Homo sapiens: one gene and its partner. The protein of the gene in region 2 interacts with the protein of the main gene of each other region in a pairwise test. Each region holds a gene or a part of one and is shown on either strand. Other genes may lie near its edges.

Region 1 (3,216 bases), on a different chromosome or scaffold from region 2:
CAGGCTTTTGAAGGCCTTGAAGGATGTGTTAGGGATTTGGAAGCCACTGGAAAGATGAGCAGGGGTGGAGAGTGATTTAGGAATGTTGTTGTCATGCTGCCCAAAGCAAAGTAGATGAAGATTCGAGGTAGAAGCACACTTCTGCACAGGTGGCCCTAAGATGGTGATGGTGGAGTGGAAGGAGCAGATGAGCCAAGAGGACAGGAAATGAGGTCGGTGTAAAGGGCAGGGACAGGCCAGGGGTGCACAGGGATGAGTCTGGATTTGGCTGCCTTGAGGGCTGTCTACAGTAAGCATACTTAAGCGGATGTGCTAGAACTAATGTCATTATTTATTTGCCACAACCTAAAGAGACAGGCAAGTATTAGTCGCCCGTCACAGAGAAGGTCCAGGGTGTCCAGGGCCCACTGTGGAAAGCTCTGCCTGGCTTGCCCCTGCTCCGCCGGCCGTTACCCGCTACCCACTCATACTGTCGTCCAAAAACTGGGCAGTGAAAAGTCACAGGTCAGATACAAATTGGACAGATTTGGTGTGAACATTTACAAGCTCATCCCGTACGCTATGTTTCAGTGGTCACCTAAATATTCTCATTTCAGGACTTTTTAAAACACATTTTCCCAAATCTAACTTGGGACAAAATCTAACTTGGGACATTTAAATAGGTTATCAATAATTATCTGTTTATGGCCTCTTTCGGCACACAAATAAGCATCTCCCTGTACAAAATTCTAGTGTATGCTGAGCTGATTGATTGCCTTCTGCATACACCTTTTCTACAACTTCTCAAACGTGTGTGACATGCTGGTAAGATGGCAGGAAAAGGAGTGACTGAATAATACAATATAGCTGAGATGTGTTTCAAGAAAACCTCTGGGCCAGGGTAGGGGTTTGTGAGCGGGAGCCAAGGACTTGCCCCATGTTTCTAATCAAGGTGAGACCACTGACACATGTGGTCAGCAAATATGTTCTATACACACATCCGCACACTGTCATCTAACCCATCCGTTCTCCCATCCACAGCATCTCCAGGACAAAGCCATCGCAACTAGGGAGGGGTTGACACCTGCTCTCCTAACATGTTTTCTTTCTGTTTCAGGCTTGAAAAACCCTTGCCCAGTTTTGATCCCTTCAAGACTTTGTCACAGCCTCTATCACACATCTGTTTTTCTCGAAGAAAAAAATATAATTAATAAAAATGTTTTACTCTTTTACACTGTATAATTGTAAGAAATAGCGTATTATTTGTGAATGCATGGTCTGAAATTTCTGTACAGTTTGGAGATATTTTCAAACGAAACGTAAGAGAAGTCAACAATAAAACCAAGAAAAGTGAGTATTTTTATACCAAACATTTTAAGTATGCTGGGATGGACGATCTTACACTGGTTTGGATCACAGTTTTTGTTCTTGACTTTTGAATGCTTGTAATTAAAAATATCTATTTTTTTCCTCTGAAGTAAGTTGCATGTTTGAGGCATGTTTCCAAATATTATCAAAATATCCTGAATTGTATTGTGAATATATAGAAATCTGTGCCTGGCCGGAGTCCAGGGTAAATTAGTAGCATGGTGTTAGATGTTAGAAACAGAACTGTTATTTGCAGTGTTAGGTCTAGGATCCCAGTTCTAGTAGGACAGCCCTGCAAGACAATCAACCAGAAGCCTCCAGGAGCTTCTACCTATGGCTTATTCACAACTGGGCAAGAAAACATCATTGGTAAGAACTGCTGAGTGTGCCCTTAGAAAGCCCTAGTAGCTCCAGCTGTGACTATATCAACTGTGTGCCAAGTGTGACTTTGTACAGTTTTATGTTTCCACTCTCCTGTATGTGTAGCCACTCGATGCCTAACCTACCTTCCACAAGCCAGCCCCGCATCCCTGCTCCCGCAGTGTAAGTGCAGAGCCTGCCTCACTGGTAAGGGAAAACCTTGGCTTGGGAGGCCAGCCCTGGCCCTTGAAGGGGTTGGCTGTGCCCAGCCCACCTGGCTGCAGTGGGCAGCTCATGTCTGTATCTCCAAAGTGATGTTTGTTTGCAAAACACCGGCTGAACTGAGCTGGTGTTGCCAACTCTTGGCAGCACTGGGCCAAACCGACCACATACCATGAGCTCCCAAATGGCGTGTGCTCACTGTGAGACGTCCTGCCACACCCCACAGGAGACGGAGGCAGTGGGCATTTGGAACCAATTCTATTCAGACTTCGTCAAAGCCAAAGTCAGTCTGGTGTTGTCAGTTGACACATCTCCAGAGTTCATGACAGCTCAACCTCTCCCCTTGTACAGAAGCCATTTTTGTAAAACCACACTGACCTAAATTCAGCTGCCAAACACAGTCTTTCCTATTGATCCGCTCGGCTTATGTTGAAAATTTCAATGTCATGATTACCTGGTTGGTTTGGGTTTTTGTTTTGTTATTTTCCATTAGAAATATAAAGATGTCAAGAAGCTTTTAAAGGTCAACACAAAAAACCAAGGCCAGGAGTGAGGGGCTCTTTCTTACCGTAAATAAGGGGAAAAGGCAGTTAGCTCAAGGACTTGTGACGGATCCACTTTGGTGTTCAAGGACCTGCTTATGCCCTCAGTGCCAATCGGCTCTTGGTGAGATGACTGTACTCCTAAGGAAAATAGCCACTTCTGCAGTCTATTATGCTTTTATAACTGTTTAAAGGTACTTTTCTATTGTCATTTTTAAAAAATAAAGTGCTTATTCCAGCTGTCACACCATTGCTTGACAAATTCTTTTTTAGCAAGACCAACTACATGTATCCCACACTGCAGACAAGACGCCAGCAGATTTCATTCCCATTGTCAGGCTTCGGCAGAGCTAAGCAAGCATTGGCCATTGAGCTTAGGCACAAAGAGATTAAAGGAGGAAGCAGATACCGGGGAAAGCCAGAGAGTAAGTCTGCAAACGCACAACCACAGTGGCTGGTGACCCACAATGACACCAGAGGCAGAGGGACCTCAAGGGAGGCCCCTCATCTACCTCAGCCTACAAAGCTTGACTCAGGATTATCTGAATTATATTAAAATGTCACTTGGGTTTTCTGCTGACTTAAATATATCTTACGCCAGGCATGGTGGCTCACACCTGTAATCCCAACACTGGGAAACTGAGGCAGGAGGCTTGCTTGATCCCAGGAGTTTGAGACCAGCCTGGACAACACAGCAAGACCCTCAATTTTAACATTAGCCAGGAGTACTAGCACCTGTGGTCCT
Region 2 (2,396 bases):
CTGGTCTGAAACTCCTAGCCTCAAGCAATCTTCCCATCTTGGTCTCCCAAAGTGCTGGGATTACAGGCATAAACAACCGTGCCTGGTCAATATCTGATGATTTTGATTGTGTATGAGGTATCATAATAATGCATTTACAGACTCTGAGCTGTATCATGTTTCTGATTTTTGTTCTAGCCGTCAGTTACTGGAGAATGACCTTAATCTTGTGCAGTTTTTGTTCAACACTTTGCTAGGGTGGATCTCTGGGAAGCATCTACAACTTGGAACACTCTGTATCTTGGTGGGACTCACATTCCAAACTGTCTTCCCTAAAAATCCTATTCTGAATTGGTTTAGGCTTTGTTCGGGCTGGCCTAGGCGGGTCTCACTGTAGTCTGTGGTCCTTACTCATTTGGTGCCGGGCTGTAGGGGGTCTCGGCTGGATGTCGACGTGGGGACTGGAGGGGGGCTTCACTCTCAATCCTCTAGCAGCTTCTCTCTGGTGAGCCTGTGGTTGCCTTGCCCTGGGAATGCACAGCCCTGCCCCGTTCCACAGATTCACAGTCAGCTTCCACAGTGTGGGGCCTGCTCTCCACACGGATCCTTCTTTCCGCTTCTCTGCTCCTCGGACTCCAGGGCTTCAGCTGCTTGAGCGCTGGCCCCTTCCTCCTCGGCAGAGTTGGGTCACTGTATTCTGCTCTGACTCCGGCTGGTGACACTGCATTTTGGAAGGTGACACTGCATTTTGGAAGCCTGCCCCAGCAGAGAGCTGGGAAATGGGAGTTTATCTCCTAAGTTTCTTCTCTCTCAGGAAGCACAGTCTGCACTGCTGGTTGACGGCTGCCTGAAAACGAGCATCTCCTAAATCTCAACTGTATAGTTGATAGAGTAGCCAGCTTTGCATCACTCACTCCAGCAGGTTCCCCAGTATGATTTCATTGTCTATATTCAGTTCTGGTCTCTTCCCCAAAGTTTCTGGTTGATGCAACAGAAGTTGCGGTTCGAGGAGCTCTTTTGGGTACCACTCATGTCTGCTTCAGCGTAGAACTAACGAAGGGAGGCAGATATCAGGCAGGTGGAGCTAAAACTGCCTGTGCATCACTGATAAATTTGGGCAGGTTTCCAAATGTAACAAGAGCTTGAAGAGGGTGCAATTAGTCACGAAACAAAGGGCCAGATAAAAAACATCATCTACGACAGAAAACTGAGTTCCAGGAAACAGCCTTGAGGAAGAAAAACAAGGAAGACAACAGGTGTGTGCTTCTGTGCTGTGGGGATGCCTGGGTCCAGGTATAAAGGCTACCCAGGGAGGCCATCCCCAGACATCACTGCCCTCTGCCTCGACCTTATCCAGCCACACGCCACCATGTGCCACACCAGCTGCTCCTCGGGCTGCCAGCCAGCCTGCTGCGCGCCCAGCCCCTGCCAGGCATCCTGTTACATCCCCGTGGGCTGCCAGTCCTCCGTGTGCGTGCCCGTGAGCTTCAAGCCAGCCGTGTGTGTGCCCGTGAGATGCCAGTCCTCTGTGTGCGTGCCCGTGAGCTGCAGGCCCGTCGTGTATGCGGCTCCCTCCTGCCAGTCCTCTGGGTGCTGCCAGCCTTCCTGCACCAGCGTCCTCTGCAGACCCATCTCCTGCAGCACCCCTTCCTGCTGCTGAGCATGAATCTCCAGACCCGCTGCTCCCAGTGCAGATGAGGCCACACCTGTACACTCCCTGGATGAGTCCTCAGTTGGTCTTCTGCACATGGTGCAGGTGAAAAGCATGCTCAGTGAACCCTCTGAATTCTGGATCGAGAATATAATAGAATGATCTGGAGCCCTGGCTGAACTTGCCTATCCCCCCAGGGAAGTCTGGGGTCCCAGAGTCATTCTCTGACCCCATGAGAGTCAAATAAACCAGCTTTCCCCATGCAACTCTGCGTTTCTTGTCTCTCTTTTTTATTTCTATACTCCCCGCTATCTATTCTGCTGATTACATAGAATTTGCTGCTAAACCCTCTTCAGTGATCCCTTCACCCAGTGCTCATCAGAAGGTGGTGTCCCGGGTGGAGGGCGCGGCTGCAGATGCCCATGTGGTCTCTCCCAGGGCTCCTGGGGCCCAGCTGCAGTGGCCACAGCGGTGACTTACCCGCCTGTGGTGGAGTGGCCTCGCTTCCCCACTGGCTGTCCACTCCTGCTCCAGGCCAGCAAGCCCTGCATTGATGGCCAAAGCCTCAGAGCACTGAGGATCGGGCTTTCCCATGTGGTTGGTGGATGTCCTGCTTCCCGGGTCGCGGAGGATCTCAGGTTTACAGAACTGGATTAGTTCTGCAGCACACACTCCCATCACTGATCTACATATGGCACTTTTTAAAAATTGATACATAATATGTTTACATATTTATGGGGCATATGAAATACTTTACACACAGAGG

Evidence for each region.
Region 1: the proteins of KRTAP12-1 (region 2) and RBPMS interact in binary tests that used the Homo sapiens proteins (3 or more experiments, as listed by UniProt).

The regions. Positions count from the first base shown.
Region 1 is NC_000008.11:30,569,541-30,572,756, forward strand, and holds the end of RBPMS (RNA-binding protein with multiple splicing), read left to right. Parts: intron 1-1,096; coding exon of another isoform or gene 1,097-1,190; 3' UTR 1,191-2,716; downstream 2,717-3,216.
Region 2 is NC_000021.9:44,681,076-44,683,471, reverse strand, and holds KRTAP12-1 (keratin-associated protein 12-1), read left to right. Parts: upstream 1-1,308; 5' UTR 1,309-1,348; coding exon 1,349-1,639; 3' UTR 1,640-1,896; downstream 1,897-2,396. UniProt on the Homo sapiens protein: In the hair cortex, hair keratin intermediate filaments are embedded in an interfilamentous matrix, consisting of hair keratin-associated proteins (KRTAP), which are essential for the formation of a rigid and resistant hair shaft through their extensive disulfide bond cross-linking with abundant cysteine residues of hair keratins.